Linked DNA regions of Homo sapiens. The protein of the gene in region 3 interacts with the protein of the main gene of each other region in a biochemical or structural test. Each region holds a gene or a part of one and is shown on either strand. Other genes may lie near its edges. The genes, in order: HELLS, DCAF8 and WDR76.

Evidence for each region.
Region 1: the proteins of WDR76 (region 3) and HELLS form a complex in vitro, tested with the Homo sapiens proteins (one study listed by BioGRID).
Region 2: the proteins of WDR76 (region 3) and DCAF8 form a complex in vitro, tested with the Homo sapiens proteins (one study listed by BioGRID).

What each region holds. Positions count from the first base shown.
Region 1 is NC_000010.11:94,543,933-94,547,680, forward strand, and holds the start of HELLS (lymphoid-specific helicase), read left to right. Parts: upstream 1-1,855; 5' UTR 1,856-1,989; coding exon 1,990-2,020; intron 2,021-2,444; coding exon 2,445-2,566; intron 2,567-3,748. UniProt on the Homo sapiens protein: Plays an essential role in normal development and survival. Involved in regulation of the expansion or survival of lymphoid cells. Required for de novo or maintenance DNA methylation. May control silencing of the imprinted CDKN1C gene through DNA methylation.
Region 2 is NC_000001.11:160,260,439-160,264,186, forward strand, and holds the start of DCAF8 (DDB1- and CUL4-associated factor 8), read right to left. Parts: upstream 2,112-3,748; 5' UTR 2,011-2,111; exon of another isoform or gene 1,679-2,010; intron 1,485-1,678; exon of another isoform or gene 1,311-1,484; intron 921-1,310; 5' UTR 847-920; intron 1-846. UniProt on the Homo sapiens protein: May function as a substrate receptor for CUL4-DDB1 E3 ubiquitin-protein ligase complex.
Region 3 is NC_000015.10:43,850,950-43,854,697, forward strand, and holds part of WDR76 (WD repeat-containing protein 76), read left to right. Parts: intron 1-137; coding exon 138-296; intron 297-3,748. UniProt on the Homo sapiens protein: Specifically binds 5-hydroxymethylcytosine (5hmC), suggesting that it acts as a specific reader of 5hmC.

The DNA.
Region 1 (3,748 bases), on a different chromosome or scaffold from region 3:
GCTACCATTACCTTCTTCCTTATCAAGTTGCTTATTTACTTGTCAGGGCTAGCTAGGTTCCTGGAATTTCCCTTGAAGCAACTCAAGATTTCCCTTTATTCCCATGGTTTTTTTTTTTTTTTTTTTTTTTTTTTTTTTTGAGACAAAGTGTAGCTTTATCACCCAGGCTGGAGTGCAGTGTTACAATCTCGGCTCACTGCAGCCTTGACCACCTGGGATCAAGTGATTCTCCCACCTCAGCCTCCCAAGTACTAGGACCACAGGCATGTGCCACCACAGCCGGCTAATTTTGGAAATGTTTGTAGGGGCCAGGCACAATGTGTCACGCCTGCACTCTCAGCACTTCCGGAGGCCGAGTTGGGAGGATCCCTTGAACCTAGGAGTTCGAGACCAGTCTAGATAACATGGCGAAAAACCGTCTCTACCAAAAAACAAAAACACACAAAAACCCCAAACCAACAAAAATTAGCCTGGAATGGGCTAATGTCCGACACTAAAATGTCCGGGCGTGGTGGCACGCACCTGTAGTCTCAGCTACTTGCTAGGCTGAGGTGGGAGGATCAACTGAGCCCAGGAGGTGGAGATTGCAGTGAGCAGAGATCGTGCCATTGCACTCCTGCCTGGACGACAGAGTGAGACCCTATCTTAATAAAATAAAATATAGAGACTAGGTTTCGTTTCTATTTTTTATGAGACGGAGTCTCTCCCTGTTGCCCAGGCTGGAGTGCAATGGCGCGATCTCTGCTCACTGCAACCTCTGCCGCCCAGGTTCAGGCGATTCTCCTGCCTCAGCCTCCCGAGTAGCTGGGACTACAGGCGCCTGCCACCGTGCCCGGCTGTTTTGTATTTTTAGTAGAGACAGGGTTTCACCATCTTGGCCAGGCTGGTCTTGAACTCCTGACCTCGTGATCCACCCGCCTTGGGCTCCGAAAGTGCTGGGATTACAGGCGTGAGTCACCGCACCCGGCTTGTAAACTCTTAAATTTTGTATAGACACAATCATACAAGTTGTGGGAGTCAAAATGAAGGAAACGGGTGGTTACATGGTAGGTATATTTAATGCCATACATCTTAAGAAATTGGAGGTGGGAAAGGGAGCCCTGGAGAGGGAGACAAAGGAAATAGTTGAAAAGGAATGCAAACAAGAAAAGGAGGAATTGAAAGCTGAAGTGAAAACCAGGGACAAGAAAAGCTCCGCTCCTTCCTTCACTGCCCACTCGAATGAATGAATCCTGTTTGGTTTCCTGAATCTTCCTTCTGCTGGCCACTCCGCTTGGTCCATCACTTCTTTCAGCTTGCCCTTATCCTAAACAGCTTTCTTTAACCCAGTCATAATCTTAATTTCCTGTTCCTTCTCTCTCCCGTCCCACCCACAAAAAAGCCCTCCTCTTTGTCATTTTGGGGGATTTTTCACTTAAGATGTGAGCCGCGCGCTGCGGGTGCGGCGAGGCTGGCCCTATAAAAATGTTTCTGTTTCTGACATCCTCGTGCAGATACGCAGACGTCTCTACCTACAGGATCATGGGCTAGCGGGTGCTCAATCACAGCAGCCAGCGTTGGAAGGCGCCTTGCAAAGTATTAACAGCACTATCAAACTTTAATTGCGTAGTTCGGAACCAGATATGTGAGGAAACTGGGTTCTCCACGATCGGCCACCTCGCCCAATCTCACAGGATAGTTACAGGCTGAGTTCGGCAGCGGGACCCAGTTTCCTCCTGAGAGAGGTCCAGGTAAAGGTTTACGGTTGCCACAGGTCAGTCCTGACGAAAACCGCAAGCTGCGCCAAATCTCGCGCAGCGGGGCGGGAGGGCGGGTGGGGAATGTAAGGTATCGCGAGATGACAGGATTTTCCCGCGAAGGAGAAGCGCGCTTTTTTCCCTGGCGGGGGATTTGGCTAGAAGGCTGGGCCGGCAGCGGTTGTGAGGAGTTAGCTCGCGGCATTGCAGGCTCTGAGAGGAGGGGACCCGGTTCCCGGGTGAGTGTCCAGGCATGCCAGCGGAACGGCCCGCGGGCAGCGGCGGTGAGTGAGGAAAACCTTTTGGGCGCGGGTGGCAGCCTGCGGGGCTGAGGTGGGCAAGCATGGAGGCTGCGGCGGAGTTTCGGGGAGGGAGCCGACCCCGGGCAGGGACTGAGGAGGAAAGGAGGGTTGGGAAACTGCAACGGTGAGTGGAGGACACCCCGGAATCGCACGTATTAGCATGCCGGTGAAGATTTCACATAGGCAACTGCATTTTCCCGAGCATCCCGAGTTGTAAACTGTGGTCCAGGCGACTTGTAGACATTGTGAAGACTTACGGTGTCTTCTGAGAGGTGATGCTGGCGTCCCCTCGGTCTTCAGCTTTTGCTCCAGTGCATCTCGGGTGGGAGAAAGGCTGTTTCTTGTTGGAGTTGAGTAGTTGGTAATTTTTTTAAAACTGCAATTTGAAAGCTTTCTCCCCCGTCAGGCTCGGAGGCTCCAGCAATGGTTGAACAACTGGACACTGCTGTGATTACCCCGGCCATGCTAGAAGAGGAAGAACAGCTTGAAGCTGCTGGACTAGAGAGAGAGCGGAAGATGCTGGAAAAGGTAATTTAGGCATCAGGTTCGTCGTCGTGAAAGCCTGTGGTAACCTCGGCTTTAACCCGGAGGTGTGGTTTGTGTTCTTTGCTTTCCTATTTAGTGGGCTTTTTAATAACTGAAAGAAAACAGCTTTATTACTTGTCTTTTTTGTATGTTTACAGATATTGCCTTTGAGAATCCTTTCGCAAGTGCTTTGAATGGTGTGTTTCTATGAGATGTAGTCTTGGTAGTCCCATCACTTTTAAATGAGCATTTCAGATTGCTTGTTTAGCCATGAAAAGTCTTTCAAAGTCCATAGTGAGTTTTTTCGTTTGTCATCCTTATTTCCTTTAAAAATTACCTTAAATGTATGTCTCATGGCAAACAGGAATCGCTAAAACCTGCAGAAGTAATGTACTAGACTGAGGGCAGGAGAAGTTAGCATCAATCAAAGGCTGGGCTGGAATCCAAGTCTAATGATTTCCTTATACTGTAGTGCTGTTTTCCACCTAAGTGATCAACTTGCTGTTTGTTTTTCTTTTGGTTTCATGGCCTGTGTATTGCTACATAAGATTCTTTAGCTAAAAATGTGCCGTACTTTTTCAATGACAAGTTGCTGTAGTTTTCTTGTAGAGAGCATTTTGTAAGTTACTAAAAACAGTTTTTAACCTGAAAAATTCTTGTTTATTCTAAAGCCCCACCCTGCTGCTTGATTCATATGCAAGAAAAAGAATGATCGTTGACTCTTAAGTACTGCCTAGTACGTGGTTTTCTTGTGCTTTATTAATTTATTAAACTCTACCGATATTATGATATAGGTTATTTTTTGTTATTTTCATTTACAAATGAAGAAACTGAGGGAGAAGGGCACATAGTAAGTGTTGAAGTCAAATTTCAACTCAGGCTGCCTGCAGAATTTCTGTCCTTAATAATAGTGAATTAACTCATGATTATAAAACTACTTAAGTTGGAAAATAATGCATTCCAAAAACGAGTAATGAGGCCGTTGGTTCCCTGTTATGTCAACAATAATTTTTTTGTCAGCATTGTTAATACTTCTTGAACATTTATTAGGAGTCATGCATTGTTTTGAATGCTTTATATGTATTTACTCATTGAATCCTCAACTATTCTGTAAAGTAGATGTTCATTATTACTATTACTGCTATTAAACTTACTAGTTTAATTACTAGTATAAACAATTGCTAT
Region 2 (3,748 bases), on a different chromosome or scaffold from region 3:
GAATAAAACTCACCAGTGTCACTCAATATTTTCCTACTACAAATCATAAAGATATTAGGAATTGGCCAGGCCTACCTTCCAGTCACTTAGCTTTTCTGTCACATGCCATGAGCCTCTAGTCTCTGCTACCAGAAACCTGAAAGCCTCACGAAAACTGCATTTATAAGTATGTTCTGACTCCCTTTTTGGCACCAACCCATGCTGCTGAATGCCCAGGATGTTTCTTCTGCTAACCAAGAATTCTTCAGACCAGCTACAAAAGAAAGAGCAGCCACTATTTTTTTTTTTTTTTTACAAAAAATTTCCCACTATATCCTAAAAAGTCGGAATTCTGAAATAGACTGGACTCAGACACCAACTAAAGGCAGCATCACTCATCACTCCCCAGCTTTTAGTCACAAGCAGCTAAATATTCTCCTCTAAATACCAAGGGATGACAACCCGAAGCTGTGAGAGGGGAAGAGACCTGATTTGACAACAGGATGAACAGAACTCAGGCAAACTAAGTTCCAGTTTTTAACAACGTAAAAAATATGATCGACACAAAGACAAAATACAAGGAAAATGAATAAAGAAGAAAAGAAGACATGGGGCAGGGGGCACACATTCACTTCTAGGCTTAAGTCATTTGGAGATACACAGCAATAGTTTAGGACAGAAAGACAAGAAGCCCACAGACAATTAAACTTGTAAAAGTAATTCAACCAGAGCTGGAACAAAGCCAAGAACAACACTCAAGCTCTTTGGGAAACTGGTAGGAATTTTATGACTTTAGTGGTCAGCAGTTGAGCATCAGCGCAGTCTGTCTTGAACTCAAGAATTTTAATGCCTCCAACTCCCACTCACCTTTCCTCCTTTTATCACTGAAGTAAGGCCAGGCTGAGCTCCTGAGAAAATAGGTCTGTAGATTCACTGAAGGACTGAGAAAAGTTAAAATTTACATGGCAAAGGTGTGTCTTCTACTGAACATAATAAAAATATTTATGAATACACTTTAGTATTTTTAGGCCTTCTCAAAACTACTTAAAAGCAGAATACTTTATCTAATTCTAATTACTGAACAAATAACCCACACACATATGGAAATAAAATGAACCAACATGAAGATTAGAAGCCAGGCAAGTAATCTCCCAGCTCCACTAAAACGTAAAGTCATTTAAAAGGATAACCTGAATCTTTTCAACGCTAAACCATAACCAAACAACCTCTCAACAAGAAGCCACAGAGCAGGGGGGGAAATCCCGGAGAGAATGTGATAGCGCTAGTGCCGGTTTGTTTACAGAGACTCCAGTAACAATCATGAGTCAGAAATTCAAGCCACCAGATGCTTTCCAACTAACAGGGACCAAATGGGACCGTTCTAAGATATCCTAAAAGATTTGGGAGTTAGAGGAGGTAAACTAAGATAATTATATTACAAAGGGTACAAGACCACAAGACAACAACCGACTCCGGAATTCTTGGACCTCCGCCTTCCGTACAAGGTGCTGGGCCTGGGAACTTGGGATGGGGGAGGGGGACACATTGCGCGGTGGCCCTGAGGTGACGGGGAGACGCAGGGCGAGCCGTGTCCCTCAATCTAAGGGGAGAAATAGGAGCGCACACATGGGTCACCCAACGAAGCAAGGCGTCCCTGTGAACTGTGCGGCTGGCTCTTGGGGGCAACACCAGGGCTGACCTGAGGAAAGGGCAACCAGTACTCCCAGCGATGACTTCGGGTCGGCGGAAGGAAAAGACCTGAGCGCTAAGAGCTTGGGATACGGGTCAGGCCCATCCTTAGGGGAAACCGGCTGGGAAGCGAGGGGGGGCGCAGGCCGAGCCGGAACGAGACACAGACCGGGTAGGTCAAGGGAGGGGGGGTGTCCGGCTGGGGCAGTTACAAGCACGGGAATCGGCGAGGCTCAGCAGCCCGCTTCCCGTCTTGGGTCATCCTTCTGCTAGCGGCTGCTCCGACTGTTCCAGGCCCAGCCGCCCCGTCCACTGCCACCACCAACGCCGCCGCCATCTTACACTGGCCAGCGGCCGCCACCACCACCGCCTCCGCTCTCTGCGCTTGCGCCTGCGCTGCCACGCTTTCCGGCCCCGTTTGCGACGATGTGCTCGAGAAGACTGAGGGAAGAGTGGTCGCGCGAGCTCACGGCTCGCAACCCTCCTCGAAGGACGCACAAGGGGCGGGGCTTAAGGCCAACGGAAAACAGAGCGAGAGGCGCCTGCGCATTACCGAAGAGGCAAAGTTGTTTTTGTAGTTTCTTCGGGCTTGCTTATCTTGTGATACTCTAAACAAATGCGAGTTAGGGGCTACCCAGAGTTGTGATAGAAATAAACTAAATTTCCAGCGGATTGGCAGGCCACTTCCTGGATGATGGCCAGTTTTGCCGTTTTTGAACACTGGAACGAGCAATGATTGCCACAAGGATTTCTTCTGAAAATCCCCGTTTCCTTTCAGGGCTTTGTTTCCTTAAGTGGTTTCTATACTATCGAGGCCCATTTTCCCCTGAGAGTCCCCATTTACGTATTTTTAAAGAAGGGGCTCAGTAGCTTGAGGTGTAGCTATTCCAGAAGCTCTTTTCTGAAGAGAGGTGGTGTGGGTAAAGGTTCCCAAGAGTGGGCCGGGTGATGTGGGGTGACTTTTGTACTCTGTTTCGTTATGACACCTACAGTAACCCTGCAGAGGATTACTCCCAGCTGCCAGGCTGGGGTATTTTTTTTTTTTTTCTTACCAGAAGCCCAGGGTGCAAAAATCTGACCCTTTCTCACCTCCCCTACCGCTACTCTCCTATTCCAAGTCATTACATATTACTTAAGACTACCGCAATAGAAACTTACCTCGTTTGTCTACTTCCATTATTGCCATTACAGTTAAACATAAGGCAGCCAGAGTGCTTTTTAAAAATGTAAGGTCTGGCCGGGCGCGGTGGCTCATGCCTGTAATCCTAGCACTTTGGGAGGCGGATGTGGGCGGATCACTTGAGGTCAGGAGTTCGAAACTCGTTTGAAACCAGGCCAACATGGTGAAACCCGTCTCTACGAAAAATACAAAAAAAAAAAAAAATTACCCGGCATGGTGGAGCGCGCCTGCAATCCCAGCTACTTGGGAGGCTGAGGCAGGAGAATTGCTTGAACCCGGAGGCGGAGGTTGCAGTGAGCTGAGATCGCACCACTGCACTCCAGGCTGGGCAATGGAATGAGACTCCGTCTCAAAAAAAAAGTAATGTCGTATTATTTCCCCAGTCCCCACCCTGCTCAAAACCTCCAATTCCCATCACATAATAAAAGTCAAAAGTATGATAGCCTTAGAGGCCATCAAAAAATGAATTGCCTCTAAGGAGGACCCTACATGATCTGATCTAGCACCTGCCTATTTATCTGATTCATCTCCTCCCACACTGCCTAGCTCTGCTCTAGCCTCACTAGCCTTACTGTCACTCCAGTCAAAGCATGTCCCAGCCCTAGGGTTTTTTTCCTTTTCTTGGAATGTCCATCTACTAGATATTTACTAGACTTGAGGTGTCTATTGAAATCCTACTTCCTAACACAGGCAGCTCTTGACTATTGTAACTAAAATGGAACCTCATGTCATCCTCCTCTATCCCCTTACTCTGCACTGTTTTTTTAATAACATTTTTTACCTATAACATTTAATCTAAAATTATGTTTGTGATCCAGCTATACTACTAGAATATAAATTCTTGAGGGCAAGGACTGTGTTTTTATCATCTTTGTAATCTCAACACCTAGAAGAGGGCTA
Region 3 (3,748 bases):
AGAGTGGTTACAATTATAGACTAAGAAAAGACTGAATATAATCCAGTGTAAATTCTTTAATGACATAATAGCATAGCAAAAATCACTATTTTTCACTAGTTTTTTTCTCTCTCCCCTTTCCCGCAACTCTCTTCCAGACCCAGCAACCTAAAGAAGATGGAGTTTATGTTTTTCATCCCCATAGTCAGCCAGTTAGCTGTCTTTACTTCTCACCCGCCAATCCGGCCCACATACTGTCACTGAGCTATGATGGCACGTTACGCTGTGGGGATTTTTCCAGGGCTATTTTTGAAGAGGTAAATGTTAATGTGTTTACATGCTGACTTCAGATGATATTCTAGATTCTTCGAAATGCCACATGAATAATTATTATACCAATTGGGAGAAGTGGTATAGCAGAAGGACTTTGAGAACTACGCTGCCTAAGTTCAAATCCCAGATCATCTGTTACTAGTTGTATGACCTTGACAAGTTGCTTAACCTTGTTGTGCCTCACTTTCCTTAGCTGTGAAATGGGATTTAACAGGACTGACCTTACAGGGTTGTCATGAGAATTTAATGAGCTTATGCAGATAAAGTACTTAGAAGAGAGCCTGGCACATAGTATGTGTTTGCGCTTGTTAAATTTCTTTTTTTTTTCTCTCCCAAAGCTTTTAACTAAAATAACTTACTCTTCTGTTTTTAGGCATAAGACTTGTATTTAGCTGGGTGTGGTGGCTCATGCTTGTAATCTCAGCACTTTGGGAAGCCAAGGTGGGAGACTCACTTCAGGCCAGGAGTTCCAGACCAGCCTGGGCAACATGGCGAGACCTTGTCTCTACAGAAAATAAAAAATATTAGCTGAGCTTGGTGGTGTGTGCCTGTAGTCTCAGCTACTCAGGAGGCTGAGGTGGGAGAATCACTTGAGCCCAGGAGTTCAAGATCAGCCTGGGCAACATAGTAAGACCTTGTCTCTAAAAAAAATTAGCTTGGTGTGGTGGCATGTGCCTGTAGTCACAGCTACTCAGGAGGCTGAGGTGTGAGGATTGCTTGAGCCCAGGAGATTGAGGCTGTAGTAAAGCCGTGATCACATACATCATTGCACTTCAGCCTGGGTGACAGAGTGAGACCCTCTCTCAAAATAAGACATCTTCTACTTAATGTTTAAAACAAACATATCATTTGAAATGAACTTTCAGATTTGCTTAACTGTATCAGATTGCCTCAATAAGATAAGTCTTATAAGTTGAACTTTTTTATTTTATTTTTTTTGAGACGGAGTTTTACTCTCGTCACCTAGGCTGGAGTGCAGTGGCGAGATCTCGGCTCACTGCAACTTCTGCCTCCCAGGTTCAAGCAATTCTTCTGCCTCAGCCTCCTGAGTAGCAGGGATTACAGGCACCCATCATCACGCCCGGGTAATTTGTTGTTGTTGTTGTTGTCGTCGTTGTTGTTGTTGTAGAGATGGAGTCTCACTCTGTCGCCCAGGCTGGAGTGCAGTGGTGCGATCTTGGCTCACTGCAAGCTCCGCCTCCCAGGTTCAAGTGATTCTCCTGTCTCAGCCTCCTGAGTAGCTGGGACTACAGGCGCATGCCACCATGCCAAGCTAATTTTTGTATTTTTAGTAGGGACGGGGTTTCACCATGTTGACCAGGCTGGTCTCGAACTCCTGACCTTGTAATCCACCTGCCTCAGCCTCCCAAAGTGCTGGGATTACAGCGTGAGCCACTGTGTGTGGTCAGATTTGCCTCTTCTGGACATTTCATATAAATGAAATCATACAATTTGTGGTCTTTTGTGACTGGTTTCTTTAACAAAATGTATTCAAAGTTCATCCATGTTGTAGCCGTGTATCAGTACTTCATTCCTTTTTATGGCTGCATAATATGCCATTGTATGGGTATTCCACATTTTATTCATCTGTTCATCAGTTGATGAACATTTGTGTTTCTATTCTTTCTTTATATATTTATTTTTGAAACAGAGTCTCGCTCTTGTTGCCCAGGCTGCAGTGCAGCAGTGCAATCTTGGCTCACTGCAACTTCCACCTCCCGGGTTCAAGCAATTCTCCTGCCTCATCCTCCTGAGTAGCTGGGATTACAGGCACGTGCCACCACACCTGGCTAATTTTTGTATTTTTAGTAGAGACAGGGTTTCCCCATGTTGGCCAGGCTGGTCTTGAACTCCTGACCTCAGGTGATCCACCCACCTTGGCCTCCCAAAGTCTTGGGATTACAGGTGTGAGCCACCACGCCTGGCCTTACTTATTTTTATTTTTTGAGATGGGGGTCTCACTCTGTCACTCCAGCTGGAGTGAAGTGGCTTGATCTCGGCTCACCGCAGCCTCTGCCTCCCAGGCTCACGTGATCCTCCCACCTAAGCCTCCTGAGTAGCTGGAACTATAGTCATGTGTCACCATGCTTGGCTAATTTTTGTATTTTTAGTAGAGACGGTGTTTTGCCATGTTGCCCAGGCTGGTCTCAAACTCCTGAGCTCAAGTGATCTGCCCACCTTGGCCTTCCAAAGTGCTGGTATTACAGGCATGAGCCACCGCGCCTGGCTGTAACTTACATTTCAATAAGCTTGACTTTAAAACAATAGGTGGAGAACTCCTATAGCTTAATTAAAAAAGCTAACCCAATTAAAAAATGGGCAAAGGATCTGAATAAACATTTCTTTAAAGAAACACAAATGGCACCGGGTGCGGTGGCTCACCCCTGTAATCCCAGAACTTTGGGAGGCTGAGGCGGGTGGATCACCTGAGGTCAGGAATTTGAGACCAGCCTGGCCAACATGGTGAAACCCCATCTCTACTAAAAATACAAAAATTAGCCAGGCGCGGTGGCAGGCACCTGTAGTCCCAGCTACTGGGGACGCTGAGGCAGGAGAATCGCTTGAACCCGGGAGGTGGAGTTTGCAGTGAGGTGAGATTGCACCACTGCACTCCAGCCTGGGCGACAGAGCGAGACTGTCTCAAAAAAAAAAAACAAAAAAAAACAAAAAAACCCCACAAATGGCAAATAAGCACATGAAAAGATTCTAAGCATCATTATTCATTAGGGAAATGCAAATCACAATGAGATACCCCTTTACACTCACTAGGATAACGATACTTGCCAGTAATAAGTGTTGACAATGATGTGGAAAAATTGAAACCCTCATATTTTGAGAATTGGTATGTGAAATGGTAAAGTTGGTTGGGGAAAGTTTGACAGTTCCTTAAATGTTAAACAGAGTTACCATATGACCTAGCAATATCCCTCCTAGGTATACACCCAAGAGAAATGAAAGCACATGTCCACACAAAAACTTGTACGGGAATGTTCATACAAGCATTATTTGCAATAATACAAAGAATAGGTTGGGCATGGTAGCTCACACCTGTAATCTCAGCACTGACAGAGGCCGAGGAGGGTGGATCACTAGAGCTCAGGAGTTCAAGACCAGCCTGGCCAACATAGTGAAACCGCACCTCTAAAAGAATACAAAAATTAGCTGGGCGTGGTAGCATGCGCCTGTGGTCCCAGCTACTTGGGAGGCCTGAGGCATGAGAATCACTTGAACCTGGAAGGGTGAGGCTCCAGTAAGCCGAGATTGCATCACTGCGCTCCAGTCTGGGTGACAGAGGGAGACTCTCAAAAAAAGTTACATATGGTACAATTTACCACTTTAGGTATATAATTCTCTGAGTTTTGGTGAATTGTGTACACATGTGTAACTATCGTAATCAAGATATAGAGCTGGGCGCAGTGGCTCACGCCTGTAATCC